Linked DNA regions of Homo sapiens. The protein of the gene in region 7 purifies or fractionates together with the protein of the main gene of each other region. This does not show direct contact. Each region holds a gene or a part of one and is shown on either strand. Other genes may lie near its edges. The genes, in order: MAT2B, UQCC2, KRABD3, DHRS7B, TMTC3, UQCC1 and P3H1.

What was found.
Region 1: the proteins of P3H1 (region 7) and MAT2B fractionate together in Homo sapiens (co-fractionation; one large-scale study listed by BioGRID). This does not show direct contact.
Region 2: the proteins of P3H1 (region 7) and UQCC2 purify together in Homo sapiens (co-immunoprecipitation; 3 studies listed by BioGRID and IntAct, with this or other methods). This does not show direct contact.
Region 3: the proteins of P3H1 (region 7) and KRABD3 purify together in Homo sapiens (affinity purification with mass spectrometry; 2 studies listed by BioGRID and IntAct, with this or other methods). This does not show direct contact.
Region 4: the proteins of P3H1 (region 7) and DHRS7B purify together in Homo sapiens (co-immunoprecipitation; one large-scale study listed by IntAct). This does not show direct contact.
Region 5: the proteins of P3H1 (region 7) and TMTC3 purify together in Homo sapiens (co-immunoprecipitation; one large-scale study listed by IntAct). This does not show direct contact.
Region 6: the proteins of P3H1 (region 7) and UQCC1 purify together in Homo sapiens (co-immunoprecipitation; 3 studies listed by BioGRID and IntAct, with this or other methods). This does not show direct contact.

Annotation. Positions count from the first base shown.
Region 1 is NC_000005.10:163,515,619-163,519,854, reverse strand, and holds the end of MAT2B (methionine adenosyltransferase 2 subunit beta), read right to left. Parts: intron 3,338-4,236; coding exon 3,144-3,337; intron 2,295-3,143; coding exon 2,181-2,294; intron 1,663-2,180; coding exon 1,492-1,662; 3' UTR 501-1,491; downstream 1-500.
Region 2 is NC_000006.12:33,696,264-33,698,982, forward strand, and holds the end of UQCC2 (ubiquinol-cytochrome c reductase complex assembly factor 2), read right to left. Parts: intron 1,972-2,719; exon of another isoform or gene 1,865-1,971; intron 1,488-1,864; coding exon 1,390-1,487; 3' UTR 501-1,389; downstream 1-500.
Region 3 is NC_000007.14:149,717,951-149,721,450, forward strand, and holds part of KRABD3 (protein KRBA1), read left to right. Parts: intron 1-1,518; exon of another isoform or gene 1,519-1,595; coding exon 1,596-1,722; intron 1,723-2,057; coding exon 2,058-2,177; intron 2,178-2,884; coding exon 2,885-3,040; intron 3,041-3,429; coding exon of another isoform or gene 3,430-3,432; coding exon 3,433-3,500.
Region 4 is NC_000017.11:21,188,942-21,191,920, reverse strand, and holds the end of DHRS7B (dehydrogenase/reductase SDR family member 7B), read right to left. Parts: intron 974-2,979; coding exon 768-973; 3' UTR 501-767; downstream 1-500.
Region 5 is NC_000012.12:88,169,807-88,173,306, reverse strand, and holds part of TMTC3 (protein O-mannosyl-transferase TMTC3), read right to left. Parts: intron 711-3,500; coding exon 562-710; intron 342-561; exon of another isoform or gene 218-341; intron 1-217. UniProt on the Homo sapiens protein: Transfers mannosyl residues to the hydroxyl group of serine or threonine residues.
Region 6 is NC_000020.11:35,384,474-35,387,973, forward strand, and holds part of UQCC1 (ubiquinol-cytochrome c reductase complex assembly factor 1), read right to left. Parts: intron 1-3,500. UniProt on the Homo sapiens protein: Required for the assembly of the ubiquinol-cytochrome c reductase complex (mitochondrial respiratory chain complex III or cytochrome b-c1 complex). Involved in cytochrome b translation and/or stability.
Region 7 is NC_000001.11:42,750,029-42,753,528, reverse strand, and holds part of P3H1 (prolyl 3-hydroxylase 1 isoform 1 precursor), read left to right. Parts: intron 1-864; coding exon 865-992; intron 993-1,159; coding exon 1,160-1,255; intron 1,256-3,192; coding exon 3,193-3,343; intron 3,344-3,500. UniProt on the Homo sapiens protein: Basement membrane-associated chondroitin sulfate proteoglycan (CSPG). Has prolyl 3-hydroxylase activity catalyzing the post-translational formation of 3-hydroxyproline in -Xaa-Pro-Gly- sequences in collagens, especially types IV and V.

The DNA.
Region 1 (4,236 bases), on a different chromosome or scaffold from region 7:
TCCCAGCTACTCGAGTGGCTGAGGGAGGAGAATTGCTTGAACCCAGGAGGCGGAGGTTGCAGTGAGCTGAGAATGCACCACTGTACCCCAGCCTATGCGACAGAGCGAGACCTTGTCTAAAAAAAAAAAAAAAAAACTTTATGATAATCTACTTCCACTTAATGAATAGTAAATATATTTTCCCTTCCTTGAGATTTTCTTAATAATATTTTCTTTTCTCTAGGCTACTTTAAGAATACAGTATGTAATACACAGAAGATAGAAATATGTTAAATGACTATGTTTATCAGTAAGGCTTCTGGTCAACAGCAGGTTTTTACTAATTAAGTATTTGGGGAGTCCAGAGTTATAGTGGATTTTAGACTGTGCAAGGTTGATACCCCAAACCCACACCGTTCAAGGGTCAACTGTATAATGTAACAAGATTATATAGCTATTAATTTTTAGTTAAAAACAAATCCGTTCCCACAAATAGATACAGTAACTGTAACATTCTAGGATGGGGTGGTAAGTTAACATTCTGGATCAAGTGTTAATTTTATTGTGTTTTATTTCAATACATATTAAACTATATTCTTTTGTATGTATCACATGTTACATCAGAAGAATGTAATTTTTAAAAATTAAAGCAACAAAAGAACAATTAGTTTAGAAGTTTGGTCCTTACATTTAAAAAAAGAAGTAAATACAAGAAAACTAAGCATTACATGCCAGCAGTACATATTTATTATTATTCATGAATGGTGAAAAGACTTACAAGGCCCATTATTATGAGTATAACCACACATATGAAATATCACTTAGCGGCAACATGGGATGAAAAGGACAGTTATATATTTATATTAAAAAAATACACGTTTGCATTCAATGTTTGCCTAGAAAAAAAATACATGTACACACGCTCTTTCAAGTGCTCCCCATAAACTGCTATAAAAGCAGGAGGCATCAAGCTGTAGAAGTTCCAATATACATAACATGTTGAAATATCTCAAGCATAAAAACTGTACGTAACTTGCAAAAATAAAGTTCCTTTCTTCAAACATTTTGATCTGAGCTCAGGCAAAGCAAATAATGAACACCAATGATTTTTATACTATTTCACACAATTTAAAATAATCAACATGAAAAGGTCAACAGCTTCAAAAATCCTGAAAATATGGAGGTTACGAGAATGAACAATTTCATCTGAAAAGTCTACAGCAGATCTGCTTCATCCTGACTCTCAAATATTTAAGGATCATAATTTACTATACTCAAACTCCAAGTTTAGCCAGGACAAACAAAATGATAAAAAGAAAAATTACTGCAAACAGGGCATGACTGCCCTTTAGTTTCTTTAGACAATTTCACTAGTGCAAGAGCATCATTTACCTGAAAGATCCTAAGAGTCACAATTAAAGTACTCATACAAAACTATTTCCTTTGTTCTTTAAAAAGTGCCACATACTATACTTTTCATTTAAAAAAAAAAAAGAACCCAACACAAATAAACTAATGAAAGACCGTTTGTCTCCATCTCTTGTCAATGAGGAAAGGCCAAAGTGATTCTTTGATTCCAATTCGAAATGGTGTTCGTTGGCCAATGCCCAAGGTCTCCAATTTGGAGCAGTCAAGCTGAGCATTTCTCGGACGTTGTGCTCCTAGGACAGGGCTGTCAGTAATCTTTAAAGAAAGATAAACACAAAAAAATCAAAAGTAAGTGAAAGGCTATATTTTGAGGGCTTTGTTCCCCCTGACCTTTTTTTAAATATGTATATATTTTTAAACAGAGATGAGATCTCCCTCCATTGCCCAGGCTAGTCTCAAATTCCTGGGCTCAAGGGATCCTCCTGCGTCAGCCTCCCAAAGTGTTGGGATTACAGGCATGAGCCATTGTGCCTGGCCATTTTGAGGTTTTATATTTGCTACTTATTTTTGCTCTTAGTGTAAGAAATCTGATTTGATCATCCCTGGAAAAATAAACCAAATGCCTGTCATGATCAAGACAATAATACATTTTCTACAAACTTCAATACTCATGATCTTCTCTACAGATGATAATTTAGAGAAAAGTAGCACTATGAACAGCCAGCATACAAGCAAAGTTCACTTTGATTAGTACTGAGAAATGAAGTTACCCAACACAGCAATAATATATACCATAGCAATGGATCTAAAGGTTTTTACAGCCATGTACTTACAGGTCTTAAGTGACTGCTGGGGAGGTTGAAGGCATCTGCAATTGCACATGCCATTTCATACTTAGTCATCTGTTCATTGCCAGACCAGTGAAAGGTTCCCTTAATTGATGGATCCTAAGAACGATGACACAATAAATTCAATAGTTTCAACTTTTTGAGCTGAGTAGAATAGGTTTGACCAAAAAGCTTACTTAAAATAAGGTCCAGGAACTAAAAGGCAACCCTCTTTTTCTGGAAAGGTCTCCACAAGATATCTAAAATCAAATTCCTACTAATACTCTTAGCAAAACACTTAAAAGAGCAATTTCTAGAATTTAAACCTTAAGAATTTTTAAAATCAAAAAAAGGCTCCAATTTTACTTAATTAGTGGGAATATAAAAAAGCATTACAAATTTTTATGAAAACAGTACAATTTAATGAGTATTTTTAATTATCCCAAGCTACAACAAAAACTTAATAGAACCATTTTTCAAGTTGAGCTAAACTTTCTTAAATATTGTCATGTTATATATTACAAAATATAATTCTCATATATTAAAAAACTGTGGTCATCCTATTAATATTCTAAACTAAATCAGTCTCATCTTTCTTTGTATGGATATTATATTTAATACCAACTTTTTCAAATGTGCTGGGATTACAGGTGTGAGCCATCACGCCCAGCCCCCAAAGAGTATCTTCTTAAAAGACCTTAGATGATTATTTTGAAGTTTCCTAACACTTTGCAATAAAAGAAATGATGGGATCTATAGTACATAAGAAATAAATTCAAACAGAAGAGCATAATATTTTTATTCTTCATGAATACAGTGTATATGTAAACTACTTTTGTTTGGTCTCCTAGTTTTAAAAAAGCACTTTTGGCTTTCACTCAGTAACACTCCAAGTACAGCTGTGAAAGTTCAAGCATGGAAAAGACAAAGCGGACCTTCGCTAAGACAGGACTCAGGAATCCTTCTTACCAGCATTCTCTTCTCTGCTAGCTGCCGGCACACAGTGGCCACATCTTTGACATGTGTGGGGAACCTCTGCTGCCAGTGATCCATGTTTGCTGACTTGTTGCTGAACTGCACTTTATCAAACATAACAGTCACAGCACTTTCTTCGAGCTTTTCAACTTCCCCATACAGAATAGGAATCCTCAAAACAGCAGCTCCTAGAGAAGAATAAAAGCAAATAATTTAAAGCTGACTGATTCTTAAATTTTGATGTAAGATACAAGGGTGTGGATTTAAATAATATCAAAGTAGAAACCTTGCCTTTTAATTAAAATATACCAAAATGACACAGCTCACTTGTGACAACGCAATGTAAAAATATTCAAGGCCAGGCACAGTGACTCATGCCTATAATGCTAGCACTTTGGGAGGCCAAGGCAGAAGGATCACTTGAAGCCAGGAGTTCAAGATCAGCCCGGGCATCATAGCAAAACTCCGTCTCTACAAAAAATTAAAATGAAAATTAGCTGGGCATGGTGGCACATGCCTGTAGTCCCAGCTACTTGGGAGGCTGAGTAAGGCAAAAGGATCTCTTGAGCCTGAAGTTCAAGGTTGCAATGAGCTATGACTGCACCACTGTACTCCAGCCTGGGCAACAGAGTGAGACCCTGCCTCAAAAATAAAATTAAAAACAGTCAAAGGCTGAGTGCGGTGGGGCTCATGACTGTAATTCCAGCACTTGGGAGTCCAAGGCAGGAGGACTACTTGAGCCCAGGAGTTCGAGACCAGCGTGGACAACACAGTGAGACCTCGTCTCTACAAAATGTAAAAAAATTAGCCGTTCGTGGTGGGAGGATTGCTTAAGCCAAGGAGGTCAAGGCTATAGTGAGCTGTGTTCACCCTACTGCACTCCAGCCCAGGCGACTGAGACCCTGTCTCAAAAAAAAAAAAAAAAAAAAAAAAAAGAAAAAGGCAAAACCACATTTGTTAAGTATCTTCTGTCATTTGGACTAGTTTTTTTTATATATATAAATCCTACATTAATATGATCATTAAAAATAAAACTTATCATGACAACTGAATGCAATGAATAGTCTTTGACTGGATGCTAGATTAA
Region 2 (2,719 bases), on a different chromosome or scaffold from region 7:
CAGCTCCCTCCGTGCCTCAGATCTGCTGTAGCCAGTGCAGACCTCACTGTCGTGTCCATGCCACCCCCGGCATGGCTCCAGGTGGCCTGGTGACTCCATGATGGACGATCTTGCTCCCAGGACCTGCCTCTTCCCAGGCTTCCTGGGGAAGAGTTGTACGCCCAGGCAACAAGGGCTGAGCTGCGCTTGCGTGGCTGTTTCATGACCGCTTGTTTTTCTCCTTTTGGTGTAATGTTTTACAAATCCTTTGGCCTGAGAACTAATATGTTAATTGCCTTAAATAAATTAATAGAAATCTAGTCCGTTAAAAAGGGATGTGTTTCCTGCACTCCCCCGGGGGCTGTGGGGATTAACAGGACACACTGGCAGAAGACAGGAACAAGAGCCCCTCCCTGCTGGCCTGGCCTCTCAGGCTCTCAGGAGATACGCTGAGTGACATCCTGTCTCAAGGGTCCTCCCCTGAGATTTGCCTACCCAGAACTGCATTTCGGCATAACTGGTTTCTACGGCAGTCCTGTCGATTTTATTTTATGCATTTCAGAACATCCTGAGGAGTCTAGACACAGACGAGGTTAAGAACCCACTTCCACTTTGTACCCACCAGGGCCGCTGTGGGCCCAGCCCTGTCCCTCACGGTTCCAGAGAGAAGGATGCTCAATATCAGTAAGAGCCAAGGTTCCATGGAATAATGAGGTGACCCTGTGTGTGTCCTCAGCCAGCAGGGCCTCTGACTTGTGGCCACCTACAGAACCTGCCCACAGTGCTGAAGCCAACTGCAGCTGAGGCCCCGCTTGGCCAAGGCCTGTCTATAGCTTCCCTGTCCCTTAAGCCAACTGGGCAATGTGGGTTTTTGCAAGGTCAGGGATAGAGGCCTAAGGTCCATCCTTCTCTGAGTCAGTGGGGATGAGGGCCAAGCAGGCTTTTTGCCTCTCTCGGCCTCACACCTCCCTACTGCTTTCTGTTTGCAACAGGATGCCCTTTTCAGTATTTACTGCTATTTTTGGCTTCCTCCCAGGAGCTCCTACAACAAAAGGGAGCCTGAGTATCTTGCCAGGAGACACCAGACCCGTGCCAGAGGGGCGGGGGCTCCCGTGGCAATGCAGGAAGCACCTTGTGCCGAGGCCCCATTACCCTCATCAGGCCCAGAGGGAAACCTGCATTTCCTCTCCCCAGGAGATTTCCCTACCCTGAGCAGCAGTCACAGCAGATAGCTCAATCACCATCCCTTCTCAGGCTGAAACTTTCTTTAGAGCAGCAAGGGCTTCCTTTCTGGGAAAGCTAGAGGAGATTCCCAAACCGTAAGGTCAAGGGGAAACTGGGGCAGTTTTATTGACGATGGCAATGTACAAGACTCCACACCTAGGTATGTGCACGAGGTAAGGCCTGAGCTCAGGCCTTATGATCCTCCTCAGGACCCTTGGGGGCAAACTTCTCCTGCAGTTTCTTCCACATGCCTTTATCTATTTCCTTAAGCTCTTCCAAGGTGTCTGCAAAAGGGGAAGACAAAAAGAGAGAGGGACTGAAGTCTAAAACTTGATGACATAGATTGGACCCACTGGGCTTTCCCGACACAAGCATGGCTTGCTTTTCACACAGTGTGTTCCTGAAAAAGGTGGAGACCCAGCTCCTGAAGAGCAGATCAAACAGGTAACAGAAGTGACCGCTTGCGGGGACTGAGCACTGTGTGCCAGACTCTGTGCCCAGCACGCTGTCAGTGGTCTCCTGCCCTCTCCTCACCCTCGGCATCAAAGCGGGATGTGCTGCTCGTTGCCCTGCTCCGTATGAGGGCAAAGAAATGGCCCTGCGCTGTCCGCTGTGCAACCCACAGACCCAGATGCTTCATCGCAAAATTTGGCCTGCTCCACACAGCCCTTCCTGTCCCCAGTTTTCAGGTGTGGAAACTGAGGCAGGAGGCAGTGAAGTAACTTGCTCAGGTTGCACAGCTGGGAAGTGGAGCAGGGATTTGAATCCTGGTGTGTGGACTCAGCACATGCTGTGGAGTTGAGCAGGCACTGGGAGGGGGATGGCCTTGGGCCTGAATCCGAGCCCATCATCTCCCACTCTGGGTCCCCTCAAGCAAATTACTTAACCCTCTACGCTTCGGGTTCCTCATCTGTAAAATGAAGATAAAAACACACATCTGCAGACAACTTGGGGAGAGGTGAAAAAGTAAGAAAAAAAAAACCACACGTACCTCAAAAGTTGTAAGGATTAAAGAAAAGCATGGAGGTAACTCGCTTGGCACACAGCCCGCACTCAATGAAAAGGCAGCCATCATCCACCACAATGCAGGCGGGAGGGGCTCTTGTTTAAGAACATACACGTCCCTACACCCAGGAACCAAAGCAGGGTTTCTTGGCCTTGGCACTACCAACACTTTGGGCCAGATAATTTTTCGTCGTGGGCTGGCCTGTGCATCACTGAAGGCTGTTTCAAAGCATCCTGGCCTCTACCCACTAATGCCAGTAGCACCGCTGCCCGCACCACCAGTTGTGACAACTAAAAATGTCTCCAGACATTGCCACATGTCCCCTGGGGGGCAAAACCATCCCCCCAGTACGGAACCATTTGTCTAAAGTCTCTAGGGCTAATGTTCCATGAAATCTAATTTTACGTGCATGTTAAATTTTAGATATTCTTATAATATTGTTTTGCTTTACCAGCCTAAATTTTCACGTTAACAAAACTACTGGAGAAAAAAAGAGTATCTTTTCTGACC
Region 3 (3,500 bases), on a different chromosome or scaffold from region 7:
ACCATGCCTGGCTAATTTTTGTATTTTATTAGAGATGGGGTTTCACCATGTTGGCCAGGCTGGTCTTGAACTCCTGACCTCAGGTGATCCACCCACCTGGGCCTCCCAAAGTGCTGGGATTACAGGCGTGAACCATCACACCCAGCCTGGGACAGTTTTTAGAATCACTGACTTGGGTGGGTGCAGGGGCTCACGCCTGTAATCCTAGCACTTTGGGAGACCAATGTGGGAGAACCACTTGAGCCCAGGAGTTCAAGACTGGCCTGGGCAACATAGTAAGGTCCTGTCTTTTTTAATTAATTAATTAAAATAACTGCCCTGAGCAGATGAAACAAGCGGTGAATTGTCTTTGCTTTATTAGGGGCGTGTTCATTTTCTTTAATAATTTGTTCTCACAAATAAACAGTTTAACATTCATTTCTCAACAGGAAGGACCCTTCCCATAATTTACCTTCTGTTTGCTTAATTTGCACAGTTAATTTTTGCCATAATTTTAAATTCAAGCCTATTGATGCTGGTCATTTTCTAGTGTCTGATGGCCACTTTAAAGTCCACTGAAGGACTTTTTTTTTTTTTTTTTTTTTTTGAGATGGAGTCTCGCCATATTGCCCAGACTGGAGTGCAATGGCGTGATCTCGGCTCACTGCAACCTCTGCCTTCCGAGGTCAAGCAATTCTCCTGCCTCAGCCTCCTGAGTAGCTGAGATTACAGGCGCCCACCACCACACCTAATTTTTGCATTTTTAGTAGAGACAAGGTTTCACCATATTGGCCAGCCTGGTCTCGAACTCCTGATCTCAGGTGATCTGTCTGCCTTGGCCCCCCGAAGTGCTGGGATTACAGGCGTGAGCCACCACACCCAGCCGAAGGATTATTTTGTAAAGAAACATAGACAAAAATGCTCGTGTTATTTTAAAAAGCCACAGGGTAGGAGGAGATGAGTACAGAGAATAGGAGATAGGAGTACAGGGTGTAAAGGAGCCTGGTGACCCAAAGCTTCCAAGGGCAACCCCAGGTTTCTTCTGAGCACTTCTCTAAACCCAGCACACAAACTAGGTGGACAGCAAGAATGTCTTCTCTCACAGCCCTGCAGACCCGAAGCCCTACGTCACAGTGTGGGCAGGCCACACTCCCTCTGAAGGCTCTGGGCCAGGATCCTTCTTGCCTCTTGTGGCTTCTGGTGGCCCTGGGCATTCCTTGGCTTGTGGCTGCATGACTGTAGTCTCTGCCTGTCTTCACACAGCTTTCTTCTTTTGTGTCTGTCTCTGTGTCTCTTCTGATAAGGAATGAGTCATACTGGACTAAGGGTCCCCCCTACTTAGGAGTATGACCTCATCTTAAGTAATTCCATCTGCAGGGACTCTGTTTCTAAATAAGGTCCTACTTACAGGCGTGAGGGTTAGGACTTCAGCGTGTCTCTGCAGAGACACAGCTCACCCCCAGCACTGTCTCTTGAGGGGATTCCTGCATGTCAGACCCTGGCTATTATCCTGGAGTGTGCGCCTGGAGGCCTAGGTGGGGTTACCAAGTGCAGGGACAGCTAGGCTGTCCCCTCTGGGATGGAACAACCAACCCCCCCGGAGACTGTGCCTGCAGGTGTCCATCACCTTCAAGGACTTGGCCGTGCGGTTCTCGGAGGAGGAGTGGCGGCTCCTGGAGGAGGGGCAGAGGGAGTTCTACCGAGACGTGATGCGGGAGAACTACGAGACGCTGGTCTCTGTGGGTAAGGACGGGAGGGAGCAGCACGTGTGGCAGGAGCCTGGTGGGCGGTGGAAGGGAGGCCGGAGTCCCTGGACCCGGCAGCCTTAGTCTTTCCACCTGAGAAATGAACACGGGGATCGTTCACGCTGCTGCTATTCTATGTCCCGGGACCGGGTTCTAGGTACAATTCGGTGGGGGTATGCGGCGGCCTCTGAGGTTCCGACCACTCTGCGGTTCTTTGAGTTTAAGTGGTCACATGAATGTGCACAGACCTGCAGGGGCCTGGGCTGCTATGCAACTGTGTGCGAAGCGGAGACCACTCCATTCCCAGGGCCACAGTTCCCTCTTCTTTCCCAGGGACAGCTGAGCTGCTCCCCCTCTCTGCTTTCCTGTCACCCTCAGAGCCTGGAAGAGCTGTTGGGGGAGGGAGCCACGCTGATGAGGGGCAGGAGCCTGCTGGTTGTGGAGATCCCCAGGGTAAGTTATCTGTCAGACTTTGGGTGTCTCCTCCCACTCATCGGTCCTCAGCCCCAGGCAATGCGTGACCTCAGCCTACTCAGTCCAGCCTCTCACCTCCCTGCCTCCCCTACTGCAACCTCCCAAGCTTTCACCCCTCATCCCTCTGGGCTGGAAGCCTGTTATGCAGAGAAGCACTCAGAGAAAGCCTGGGGTCACCCTGGAGAGTACCTCCTGCCTCAGGCCCCCCACCCACCACCACCCTGAAGCCTTATCACAGCCACCCCTGCAGAACCTGCTCCAGCTCCCAAAAGTCCTGCCACGAGGCTTACATCCCAAGACCTCAGATGGTGGATGTGCTCCACCGGCCCAGACTGGGCAAGGCCAGGCATTTAGGGGGTGCCAGGAAAGGCAGAGGGCCCAGATGGTGGAAGAAGTGTAGCGGCAGCCCGCCTGGGCATTCCCCTGGGAGGCATGGAGATTAATGAGTAACGTAGAACAGAGGAGCCCTGTTACCCAGGCCCCGCCCCCATGCCCTGGCTGTCCCTTGGCCAGAGCGCCTGGCCTGAGCCCAGGTCCTCTATATCTCATGGGACATGGTGTCTCCTCTGGCTGCTCCTCATGTGGCTGGGAGGATTACGTGAGATGCTGGGTGTGAAAACACGCACGTAGGTGTGAGTGCTGAGCAGCCGCAGGGGTGCGGGGGGGTCACTGTGGCCTCTCTGCAGGGGGACAGCCCCGGCACAGCCTGCACCTCACAGCCCTGGTGCAGCTGGTGAAGGAGATCCCAGAGTTCTTGTTTGGAGAAGTCAAGGGCGCTATGGACAGCCCCGAGAGCGAGAGCCGGGGAGCCAGCCTGGATGGAGAGAGAGCGAGCCCCGAGGGTAAGTCAGACAGTGGGGCAGTGCACGCAGCCTCCTCTGCACTCCGCATGATGAAGCACAAGTCCACGGCACTGCACTGCATGTGGGCTTGCAGGCACAGGCCGGGAGGCAGAGTCACCTGCTGTTCCTCGTGGCTAGGCCGTGTGCCGCCCTCTGAGCACATGCCCATAGCTGGCGAGAGGGCAGCTCTGACTTTCGCATGGTGGTTTCTGTGTGGCTTTGTCACCCTCCACCCACCATGGCCCCATTCAGAGCCCAGTGATGACAACACATAGGTGGCTGACATCCTGGTCATTGTTAGTACATGGCAAGGAAAGGACCCAGAATGTGACAGTGTGACAATGTTAGGGGCATCTTACCAGTTGTTGATTCTCCCTCTTTCCCGACAGCAGCTGCGGCAAGAGAGCCCTGCCCTCTCCGAGGCCTGCTCAGCTGCCTTCCAGACGGCCCTACCAGCCAG
Region 4 (2,979 bases), on a different chromosome or scaffold from region 7:
ACCAGGGGCTGCTGTAGAGTCTGCCCAGCTGGCCAATTTAATGGTTTCACTTCTAGAGGATGCACGGGGCCACGCAGGGTCCTCCTCTCCCTTTTGGCTGCTCTCTCTTTAGTAAGTTCACCTTCTGCTTGGAGTGGTGCCTGGCATCCTACAGGGATGTGGTGAGAGTTAAGAGAGAAACAGGAATTCCTATGAGGTGCTAAAGCAGGCATCCCTTGGGATACACCAAATAAGCCATTACATACTGGCCCACGTTTTAAGTTGGATGAGATATCATAGGGACCTGGAAATGGGCGTGACTGCTGACTTCTTGAAACTACAACTTTCTCCCCTCAGTACTGGAGGTGGTCTTTCTGCCACAACAATGAGGTTTAAGTCAAATACAGAAACAACTGGGTCAGGTGACATAACATCTGATTCCAAGATTGAAACTATTTCTAGGAGCTGGCAGGGCGAGAATTCAAAGGACACAAGGTTCTAGTCCTGGAAGACTACAACTCTTACTGTTTGAGATGTTTATTTCTAGTTTTTAGTGTTAAACCCCAGCTCCATATTTATTCCTTAAGTGTTTCCCCTCACCCTGGGAAGAAGCTTGTTGTCGTTTTTGATTGTCCTCTGCCAGCAGATCTGCACGAGATGTGTTTCTTCAGTCTTTCCCACTTGTGAGACAAATCTCCATTAAAGTCTCAACAAATGCAACTGTCCCTTGTAGAGTAAGCAAGCCTAAGAGTGCTGCTTCTCTGCCCTGGCCCTGGCTGGTCAGAGTACTAGGAGTTCTTGGATTTCCGCTCTTTTCTGGCCCTGGAGGCCATGAGGCTGAAGAAGAGCCCAGGAGCCAGAGTTCGAAGATAAACAGCCAAGGAAGGCAGTAAGTCAGCCAGGATCACATCTTTCTTCTTCTTCCCCACAGCAGCAAGAACATCCTGGGCCACCTCCACAGGGCTTCGGCCCTGGGCTGTGGTGGTGTCCATAACTAAAATAAATAAAACAAAAGAAACACATGAACTTGGAAGCAGAGGTCCCTCTTGAGGAGTGGAGCTGATGTGAGTCGTCAGGTCAGCCTGCTGCCTTTCCCACCATGAAGCTCTTCCCAGGGCCAGGAAGCCAGTGGTGTGCCACCATCCCTGATGATTCCATGCTCCAAGGAAAGAGGGAACCATTTTGCAGCTGGATGTGGGTCAGTGGGGGAAGCGAGAGGTGGGTGGGATGTGGAAACAAGGTAGACTGAGGATCCCAGTTAGGGCTTGGAACCAAAGTGAGTCTGTCTGCCTGGTGCTCCACAGCAAAGGCACAGGGCCAGCCCGGGGTGGGGGCTTCAGAGTGACCCCCTCACACCGCACCTGAAAAGCAGCTTCCTGACCTGGGAAACGTGTGCCTATTAGAACAACCAAAGACTAAGGGATGTTGTGCCACCTCATTTATCTTGGGTAGCTTGGCTTCAGGATGGCCAGACAGAGGTGGGTGGGGACTATTGACCCCCATATGCACAAGCTCACTGAGTCAGGAGCAGACAGATGTCCCTGTTCTCGATGTCAAGTATTAATTGGATGAGAAACAGGAAGAAGTCCTTAGTTTGTTTTAGGTGTTAGAAGGAACAGCTGGGAGAGATTAGGAGGCAGTGTTAGATTAACGGCAACTGATGTTCCTTCTACCCTAGTAATTTGACAATTTTGCCCGCAAAGTAGGACCAGCTGGCAGGCACACAGGAGCGGCCACTAGCACAGACCATGTGAAACCACTTTTTTTTTTTTTTTAAAGACAGGGTTTCGCTCTGTTGCCCAGGCTGGAGTGCAGTGGCACAATCATGGCTTACTGCAGCCTCGACCTCCTGGGCTCAAGCAATCCTCCTGCCTCAGCCTCCTGAGTAGCTAGACTACAGGTGGTGCCACCATGGTTGGCTAATTTTCGTATTTTTTGTGGAGGTTAGGTCTTGCACTATTGCCCAAACTGGTCTCAAACTCCTAGGCTGAAGTGATCCTCCTGACTTGACCTCCCAAAGTGCTGAGATTTCAGGTGTTGACCACAGTGCCTAGCCATATGAAACCACTCTTAAGTTGTCCAGATTGCCTGAGCTCCCTCACCAATGTCTGTTCTGTGTTTTTGTTAATGCAGAAAAGTAGGAAGTTTTGGATTACAGCTTATTTTTAAATGCCGCAGAGATAATTTTTTAAGTGGTATCTTCTAGGTATAAACAGGTGTAAAGCTGTATGAAGCCCCATGCCTCTGTATAGAGTCTACTGTGGGGAAAACAAGACTTGCTGTGTGAGAGAGCAGCTGCTGCCAGGACATGGGCAGTCTTGGTTCAGGCCTGGCTGGGCCGGGCGCAGGACCATGAGGCCCCTGGCAGACATCACAGCACAAACCCCAAGAGCTCACTTCAGGGAGGAGGACATGGCAGGACAGCACTGGAGGGGTGAGCAGGCCCTGTTCCAAGCATGGGGAGGCAGCACCAGCTCCAAGGGCTCCAGTGATCATGGGCACACTGGTCTCTGCTTGGCCTGAGCCTGCATGCTGGGGCCAGCTGCTCTGCCCGCGAGTGGTGACTGCAGGTCAGCTCTGCACTGTCTCCAAATGAGACAAGATGAAGGTGCTGAGACTGCTGCACTCGGCCTCATCCTGAAGACTGGCCCTGAATCAGTCATTTCTCAAGCCTATGGGACAGAGACAGACCATCAAACACCCTACACTTGCCATGAGGTCAATTCACTCAATCCCGATGCCGATAATACTCCTTGGACTCGGGATCTGCGAATGGGTTAGTTGGAAGTCTGTTGGCATTTCAGCTTGGCAACTTCCTTTTAGCCCTTGAGTCCTGCCCACAGAGGTCCTGTTCTGAATGCTGCAATGGTGACGTTCACACTAAGGGTAGGCCATGGTGGGGTAAAAGAAGATTATTCAATAGTCCATATCTAGAACCAACACCTCTGTCAAGTTTTTTTCACTTTAAAAGTTCTCTTCCAAATGAAAATGACCAAAGAA
Region 5 (3,500 bases), on a different chromosome or scaffold from region 7:
ATTTGATAATTTTAGTGCCACAGCATAAGTATACAATGAGATAATACCTATAACAATTATAGTTCCTAAGCATATATACAGTGTGACTATGCTGTTCCTTAACTGTTAGTTTGAGGCAACTAGGATACAAAGATTATAATGAAGATAGTGATGATAGCAAGAAATTACAGATTGCTTACTATATGCATTTTATATATATTAACTCAATATGACTCACTTAAGTAGGATGACTATTATCTTAGTTCACTGAATATGGAAGTGGCAATGGTCATTTGAGACTTTATTCTCAGTAACATCCTTGTTTTCATTTGGATCTGACTCAAAGTTTGTTCTGTCTCAGGCTGTAAAATCAAATTACATAAATATAGGGAAGAACACAGAATAAGTAGGTGCCATGGAGCTTTCCTAACTTGACTTACAAGACAAATGAGGAGACTATGGAGATGAAAAACCAAAAGATACAAAAGCATGACTTAGAAAACTGAACTAAATATTTAAATTTTAAAATGTGTCACACTTAATTCCATAGTAAGCATTACATGAACTGACATTTAAATTCACCTTTTTGTTGATATTTTCTGCCATCCATGGGCTACCAAAATACAGAACCCCATGCTGGGAACATATAATACTCGCTCGGCAACAACAAATCCAACTGGAAAAAAAAGGTTCGATGCAGGAATAAATGGTAATGCCATTAAACAAAGCGCCTACAAAAAAAAAAAGAAGATTTAATAATTTATAATAAATTTAAAATAATTTATAATAAATTAAGAAATATATGGGCATCTGATACTTGAATCCAAATATTTTATCATTTAACCTGGATAGTGTACTGCTAAACTATTTTTAATAATACTGTGAAGAATATTAATTTAAACATAAAGAAGGCAACTTAGACATTAACAAACATCAGGATGTACGTAAGCAAGGTGAAATGGAAATCTTGAATTCTAAAAGTTAAAATTAGAGGATATCTATGAACTTTGAAAACAAGATTTCTAGGTGTGTTTGGGAGTGATTACTCCTTGAAATTAAAATCTAAACCATTACAGCATTTTAAATTTGAGAAGCATAATTAGCTATATCTCACTGGTTTTCTGTAAAGAATATGCTTGCATAGTAAAATATAAAAACTTTAATAAATGTAAATATTCACATCTTTAAGCAAAAATTAAACAATAAAGGTTCATCCAGTTAAATAGTGGAAGTACTTTTTGAAATTCTATCTAAAATAACACACTCAAACAATCATAAGAAAACAACCCAATTTAAAAAATGGGCAAAGTAGCTAAATAGATATTCCTCAGAAGACAACATGCCAATGGCCATCAAGTATATAAATGTTCAACATCACTATCATTAAGGAAGTGAAAATTAAAACCACAATGAGATGTCATCGCACACCTGTAAGAATGGCTATTATCAAAAAGTCAAAAGATAACAAATGTTGGCAAGAACGTAAAGGAAACACTTGCACACTGTTGGTGGGATGTAAATTAGCATTGCCATTAAGCAAACAGTAGGAAGGCTTCTCAAAAAATTAAAAATAGAACTACCATGTGACCCAGCATCCTCACTACTGGGTATAGATCCAAAGGAAATGAAGTCAGTATGTTGAAGAGAGATCTGACCTCCCCTGTTCATTGCAGCATTATTCAATTTACAATAGCCAAGATATGGGAACAACCTAAGTATCCATCAACAGATTACTGGATGAAAAAAATGTGGTACATATACACTTTAGAATACTATTTAGCCTTAAAACAGAAGGAAATCCTGTCATTTCTGACATGGATAAACCCGGAGGACACCATGTTAAGAGAAATAAGCCAGCCACAGAAAGACAAACAACGCATGATCTCACTTGTATGTAGAATTTGTAAAAGTTGAACTCACAGAAGTACAGTACATGGTGGTCACCAGGGTTGGAGGGAGAAGGTTGGGGAGAGGTTGGTCAAAAGGCATAAAACTTCAGTTAGGAGGAATACAAATTAAATAAATAAAAATTTTACACATCTAACTTATGTGCGTGTGGTAAAAATAAGATGATAATGAAATATGCTAATAGGTTTTTCAACAAAACAAAACCACAAATGCTGATTAAAAAAAAGCTAAACATGTCAGTTTTTACAACTTTACTACTTTAAGAAACCACATGATATTGGAAACTGAGGGAATGAAATCAGGTGTCGTTCAGACAAGATAGCAGACTACTGTACCTTAGCATTACTTCACATAACATCCTGAAAGGTTAAATGTATTTAACTAGAAGCTTAGTGTATGCATAAAAATAAAACTGCCCCCCTTTAAATCAACAGTCTTTCATTCTACAAGAATTTCTAAAATTATTAATATAACACTGAACATTGAAATGAAACATCATAAAAATGTTTAGATTTCTTACCATTTTGAAAATGGGATGACATGTGGTTTCCACATTATACACCCATAAAAAACTAGCACATAAATAGCTTGTGAAGGAAATAAGTTTGGTCGTTATTAGGAAATCTGTTTCTATGGACATCTGCTTCCATATTTTGTTACCCCGATTTGTTTTACAGTACTTAATTGAATAAACAAGTTAAACCTTTAGCTTCACAAGTTTGAGACTCTTCTAATGGGCTAAGGTGAAAGAATGTCCTTTTTTTCTATTTGACTTAATTTGTGAAATATAGAGGTGTATACATTGAAAAGAATACTCTCCACAAATGTTCACACATTAATGATTTGTAATAAGGCAACACTGAATCTGAGGAAAATCACTACCATCAAACTGGTCACCATCATACCAATTTATAGGTCTGACACTTCAGTTTTTTTAAATCAAAAAGGTAAGAATAACTAAGAGTGCATAGAATTCACTTTCCATTTCCCAGAGATGCTTGACAAAAATAATCAGCAAAAAATGTGAAACAGATAAAGAAAAGTTCCTGAATATGTATGTAGTTCATTGAAAAAAAAATTATACCTATTAATTCATGGCCGCCCCAAGGCAATTTCACTTGAGGGAATTAAGTGTTAAATTCACTCAAAAGTGTATTGTAGACTGATGCATAAACTATACAAAACAAAAAAAATCTCTCAGGAAAAATCTATAGGTTCTGGGATAAGAAATGTCTCTAATGATTAACTTATTCACAGGTCCTAATATGCTCTCTAATAATGTATGCCAACCTAGTTAACTATCACTCTCTTGTAATTTCCTTCTTCCAGTAGCATAAACTGTCCTTAAATGTTAGGATATTAGTAGAAAGAGCAAAGAGTTCGAGACAAATCTGCTTTACTTCTCATTTCCTACATACGGCAAACCACTCAGTCACCTCCAGAGTCTTTCTTTCTTTTTTTCTTCTTCCTTTTTTTTTTTTTCTGACAGGGTCTTGTCTGTCATCCAGGATAGAGTATAGTGGCATGATCATAGTCTACTGCATTCTTGAACTCTTGGGCTCAAGCAATCCTCCTGCCTCAGCCTCCCAAACACCTAGGACTACAGGTATGCA
Region 6 (3,500 bases), on a different chromosome or scaffold from region 7:
CTACAAATTTTTTTTTAATTGGCTGGGTGTGGTGGTGCATGCCTATAGTCTTAAGCTGCTTGGGAGGCTGAGGTGGGAGGATCACTTGAGCCCAGAAGATCGAGGCTGCAGGGAGCTATCATCACACCACTGCACTTCAACCTGGGCGACTCAGCAAGAGCAAGACCCTGTCTGTAAAAAAAAAAAAAAAGAGAGAGAGAGAGTGAATTCAAAGGCCAGGTGGCGTGGCTCACACCTGTAATCCCAGCACTTTGGGAGGCCGAGGTGGATGGATCACTTGAGGTCAGGAGTTTGAGAGCCTGGCCAATATGGTGAAACCCCATCTCTACTAAAAATACAAAAAATTAGCCAGGTGTGGTGGCACATGCCTGTAATCCCAGTTACTCAGGAGGCTGAGGCAGGAGAATAGCTTGAACTGAGGAGGCAAAGGTTGCAGTGAACCAATATCATGCCACTGCACTCCAGCCTGGGCAACACAGCAAGAATCGGTCTCAAAAAAAAAAAAAAAAAAAAAAAAAAAGAATTCAGCCCTGGAAACCTGGAACTACATCTAAGTCAATTCTAGGAAACAGAACTGTAGTATCTATCTATTTAAATATGGGCAGCAGTGCCGTATATGGGGAAAAAAATAAAGACACCAGCCACTTTTAGGTTTAAAACCTGCTTCTGTCGCCTACGACAAGCTCAGTGGCCATGGAAAACTTACTGAACCTCAGTTGCAGTAAGGATGAAAGAAGGTAAGATATATAAAGTGCCTTTCACAAAATAGGCACTCAATAAATAGCAGAAGTTTCCATCATCACTATCATCACCAGCATTATTGTTTGGATCACAATCGCCACCTTTTTCATGTTCACATTGCATTTAAAAACAATTTGGCAATAAAATAGCCGTTATTATGTGCCAGATACTATACAGAATGAAAACTGGGAGGAAAGTCCATTAAGGAGATGGTTAATGAAAGTTCAGTCACTCAGTGGAAAATCAGGTATCCATTGAGGGTTTTTTGTTTTGTTTTTGTTGTTGTTGTTTTGTTTTTGTTTTTTGAGACAAGGTCTGGCTCTATGGCCCAGGCTGGAGTGCAGTGGTGCAATCTCAGCTGACTGCAACCTCCACCTCCCCGGCTCAAGCAATTCTCCTGCCTCAGCCTCCTGAGTTGCTGGGACTACAGGCATCTGTCATCACACCCTGCTGATTTTTGTATTTTTGTAGAGACAGTGTCTCCATATGTTGCCCAGGCTGGCCTCAAACTCCTGGGCTCAAGTGAGTGATCTTCCTGCCTTGAACTCCCAAAATGCCTTGAACTCCCAAAATGGGACTACAGGCATGAGCCTGGGTGCCTGGCTGGGATTTTTTTTTTTTTAAATAGACTTTTTTTTTTTTTTTTAACAGCAGTTTTAGGCTCATAGCAAAACTTCCTGGAAAGGGCAGAGTTCCCACATACCCCTTCCCCCACATGCACAGCCTCCCCCGCCATCAACATCCCATACCAGAGTGGTGCATTTGATACAAAGAACAAACCTACACTGACACATCATCATCACTCAGACTGCACGGTTTACTCAGAGATTATTATTATTGTTAACAACATGAAAAATGTTAAATGCTTATAATATGTATAAAATTATAGGTAAAACATGACTGCGTAGACTGCATATGGGCAAGTTTAGAAAGAACACACAAGAAACCAAAGAGTTATTTTGTTAAGTTAGAATTATGGATAAATTTAAGAATCTATAGCCAAAATAATTCTGGCAAAAAAAAAAAAATCTAGTTTCCAAACTCTCACTAATGCTATATTACCTTTACAATAAAAAAGGGTGAGAGGGAGCAGGAAGAGGGCTGACTCTTCAATTCTGGTTTATTCCAAGAAGAAATGGAACACATGGAATGAAAATGATTTTTTTTCTTTAACCCTAACGAAGAAAAAATAGAATTTCTAATTGTGGAATGTTACTATTTACTTTTCTTTCCAAACGAGGATATTAAAAAATTAGTCAGGATTCTTCTGGTCAGTCCCAAGGACACTTAGGCTTTAATTCATAAGTATCAAGCAGGCTTTGTAAAACACAGACTAAACACAGAACACCTCCCCATTACATCACATACATCAATGCAATGGTCCACCTAAAACACAAAGCACTTAAACTGGTTCAAAGAACACAGCCAACAGCAGTTTCCACAAGCTGTGCTTTGGGCTGGGTCCTCTTCTATTAGGTTCTATTAGATCCTTCTTTTTCCTCACAGCTCTAGGAGTAACCAGTAGATTCCTTCTGTGGCTGTCCTACCATCTACTGTATTTCTATCCTACCATTAGCTAACATTTCACACTATATTGAACTACTAAAGTACCTATGTATCTAGTATCAAGGACATCTAGTTTCTCCACACCTACACACTTATAAACACACACATTTACTTTTTTGTACTACCCACTCTTGTCCTTGCACTTCCCGCAAAAAATTCACTCGACCCTTAAAGACCTCAATTTTTCCTTTGCTTAGATTAGAAAATATCAATAGGCTGGGCGTGGTGGCTGACGCCTGTAATCCCAACACTTTGGGAGGCCGAGGCGGGAGGGTTGCCTGAGTCCAGGAGTTAGAGACCAGCCTGGGCAACATGGCAAACCACCATCTCTACCCCCCTCCAAAAAAAAACAAAAATTAGCCAGGCATGGTGGTGTGTGCCTGTAATCCCAGCTACTCAGGAGGCTGAGGCAGGAGAATCGTTTGAACCCAGAAGGCGGAGGTTACAGTGAGCCAAGATCATGCCACTGCACTCCAGCCTGGGTGACAGAGCAAGGCTCTGTCTCAAAAAATAAAAATAAAAAATAAAAAAACAAGAATGACAGAGGCAGAGAAGTAGAAAGGGGGTGCTGGGACAAACTCAAGCGATTCTTGAATACCATGGGCGTGTGTGTCTGCTCCTTTTAGCAACTATAAGCTCCAGGGCACAGCCCATCTTATATGTCTGTCATTTTCTGTCCCAATACTCAACACCATTCTGGGCATGAAGTCATTACTCAATAAAAACTAGGTGGATTTTTTTTTTTTTTCAAAGAGGACAACTTTGGAGAACGTCCAAAAAAAGAACCACAGGAATGATCAAAGGGATGAATAAAAGGTCCTAGTGGAAAGGTCAAAAGGAATTTAGGCTGTTTAGCTTGGAGAAAAGGCAACTGAAGAACTAAAGAGTAACTCAGAATAACAACACTTGAGCTGGAAGAAATCTCAGAGATATTCTGGTCCAACCTTTTCACTTCACAGATGAGGAAACTAAGACAAAGGGAGAGGTTGCAATTTGGTAAAGGTAATTTTAGGACAACTTTTTTTTTTTTTTTTAAGTTTCATTTCATACAGTGAGGAGAAAACTTTCCCAAGCAACAGGAACATAAATAGCAACAAAAATAGCAATTGCAACTTACTGAAGATCTCCTGTATGTCTAGTACCTACCTACATGCTTGGTGTTTTACTTATGTTATCTCACAACAATCTTATAA
Region 7 (3,500 bases):
GGTACTGTCTTCTAGGATTCATCTCTCACCCTATCTGGCACAGTTCCTGGTACACACTGAGGCCTCAGTTATCAAGTGGAGTTGAACTGAGTCTCTAGTATTAGTATGTCCCTAGCACAGAGAAACACCATGAGAACTGTAAGAGAGAAATGTTGACCTTTGCCCTATAGTTGCTTAAATTAACAGTGGTTAATTAAACAAGATTAGCGTATGAAAAGAATTTGTCCAGCATTCCTTTGTTTTCAGACCACTTTCACTTTGTTATTTCTCTTGATTCTTATAACTGAGAGGTGAGTCATGCAGATTGCAAGATCCTTATTTTAAATGAATAATGATGATGATACCATGGTAGCCAAACTTTTGAGGACTTACCATATGCCAAATATTGTACTAAGCTTTTAACTTGCCTTCCTTGTTCTTAACATTATACTGGCATCAAACATATAAGGTAGATGCTGTTTGACAGATGAGAACATTTTAATTAATTAAAATTAACCTCAGGGAGGTTAAGTAACTTGCCAAGGTCACACAGCTAATCAATGGAGGATCTAGGAGTCAAAGTCAGTTCTTCCTCGTTCCCGAGCTCATGTTTTAGGATTGTGTTTCTGATGTTTCCTCAAGAGTGTGTCATGGCCCAAAAGCCAGCAGCTATTTGGTCATGGAGCTGGGACTGGGAATCTCATCTTTCAGCTCTATGTTCTGTCCTCTGGACTATTCTACCTTTGAAAATGACCTAGCGGGAGATTTTGCTGGTGAAAAGGAAACAGCTGGAATTTCTATTTGTGACGAGGAGGCAATATCCAATGGAGAGTCTTTGGTCTAGCTGCTGCTAGATTTAGCTAGAGTTTTGTCATTGCTTTGCAGGTGGCCCCCTGCTGTATGAAGGCATCAGTCTCACCATGAACTCCAAACTCCTGAATGGTTCCCAGCGGGTGGTGATGGACGGCGTAATCTCTGACCACGAGTGTCAGGAGCTGCAGAGACTGACCAATGTAAGGGAAGCCCAGTGACTGCACCTTCCCCCAAGGGTCCAGCATCCCCCCACCAAGTGCCCCTTGGGTGGTAGCCTTCGCCTTCCTCTTCCTGGCCACAGTTGACCACCTCTTCTCAAGCCCTCAGCTGCCCTGGCTAACATCACCTTGTGTTTTGGGCCTTGTAGGTGGCAGCAACCTCAGGAGATGGCTACCGGGGTCAGACCTCCCCACATACTCCCAATGAAAAGTTCTATGGTGTCACTGTCTTCAAAGCCCTCAAGGTAAGATCAACACTGGGCATTCTAGAGTGTGGAGAAAGGGGTGGGGAAGGGGGAAGCTCAGGCTTTGAGGAAGAGTTGGGGCTGGTGGCAGGAAAGGTGAAGAGGGTCCACCTGCCAACATTCTTGTTGCCAGGAAGCGAGGATGAGTTATGTTGCGTGAGGTTCACTTTTGAATCCTGTTAGACCGAGTGTAATCAAAACAAAGTGAGCAGGATAAGACTGTTCGCCAAAGCTATGAGAATGCTTTCTTTAGAAAGGCTGATTCTAGAGGGCTGTGCTTCTGTGCAGGATGCACAGTGTGCTCATAAAGAGAGATAAGAAGGACAGGAGGAAGAGGAATATAGTAGGGGTATTGGGCGTGGGCAGCAGAGGCTGCAGCTTCAGTGGGGGTGTGGGGACGTGGGATGGGCCTGGTACTCATTGTCTCTGGCCCCTAAAGAGGGGCGTTGTGTTAGTCCGTTTTCACACTGCTGATAAAGACGTACCCGAGACTGGGCAATTTACAAAAGAAAGAGGTTTACTTGGACTTACAGTTCCATGTGGCTGGGGAAGCCTCACAATCATGGTGGAAGGCAAAGAGGAGCAAGTCACATCTTACATGGATGGCAGCAGGCAAAGAGAGAACTTCTGCAGGCAAACTCCCATTTTTTTATTTTTTATTTTTTATTATTTTATTTATTTATTTATTTATTTATTTATTTTTTTTTTATTGATCATTCTTGGGTGTTTCTCGCAGAGGGGGATTTGGCAGGGTCACAGGACAATAGTGGAGGGAAGGTCAGCAGATAAACAAGTGAACAAAGGTCTCTGGTTTTCCTAGGCAGAGGACCCTGCGGCCTTCCGCAGTGTTTGTGTCCCTGGGTACTTAAGATTAGGGAGTGGTGATGACTCTTAACGAGCATGCTGCCTTCAAGCATCTGTTTAACAAAGCACATCTTGCACCGCCCTTAATCCATTTAACCCTGAGTGGACACAGCACATGTTTCAGAGAGCACAGGGTTGGGGATAAGGTCACAGATCAACAGGATCCCAAGGCAGAAGAATTTTTCTTAGTACAGAACAAAATGAAAAGTCTCCCATGTCTACTTCTATCCACACAGACCCCGCAACCATCCGATTTCTCAATTTTTTCCCCACCCTTCCCGCCTTTCTATTCCACAAAACCGCCATCGTCATCATGGCCCATCCCCAATGAGCCGCTGGGCACACCTCCCAGACGGGGTCGTGGCTGGGCAGAGGGGCTCCTCACTTCCCAGTAGGGGCGGCCGGGCAGAAGCGCCCCTCACCTCCCGGATGGGGCGGCTGGCCGGGCGGGGGGCTGACCCCCCCACCACCCTCCCGGACGGGGCGGCTGGCCAGGCAGAGGGGCTCCTCACTTCCCAGTAGGGGCAGCCGGGCAGAGGCGCCCCTCACCTCCTGGATAGGGCGGCTGGCCGGGCAGGGGGCTGACCCCCCCACCTCCCTCCCGGACGGGGCGGCTGGCCGGGCAGAGGGGTCCTCACTTCCCAGTAGGGGCGGCCGGGCAGAGGCGCCCCTCACCTCCCGGACAGGGCGGCCGGCCGGGCGGGGGGCTGACCCCCCCACCTCCCTCCCGGACGGGGCGGCTGGCCGACCACCCCCCCCGGCCTCCCTCCCGGACGGGGTGGCTGGCCGGGCTGAGGGGCTCCTCACTTCCCAGTAGGGGCGGCCGGGCAGAGGCGCCCCTCACCTCCCGGACGCAAACTCCCATTTTTTTAAAGCCACCAGATCTCGTGAGACTTATTCAGTATTATGAGAACAGCACGGGAAAGATCCACCCCCATTATTCAGTCATCTCCCACCAGGTCCCTTCCACAACACATGGGAATTATGGGAACTACAAGATAAGATTTGGGTAGGGACACAGAGCCAAACCATATCAGTCGTTGAGGGCAGCTGACCATCTGTCTCCTTGGCAGCTGGGGCAAGAAGGCAAAGTTCCTCTGCAGAGTGCCCACCTGTACTACAACGTGACGGAGAAGGTGCGGCGCATCATGGAGTCCTACTTCCGCCTGGATACGCCCCTCTACTTTTCCTACTCTCATCTGGTGTGCCGCACTGCCATCGAAGGTGGGCCTCATTACCCCTGCAGCACCCGCCCCCGCATGCTGTACCTCAGCTCTGTGCTGGATGCTGAAGACACAGAGAGAACAGGATGCGGTCCCTTTTCTTCAGTTGGGGAACCAATGTAAATACATGGGTGGCATCCCAGTGTGATGCATGCCAC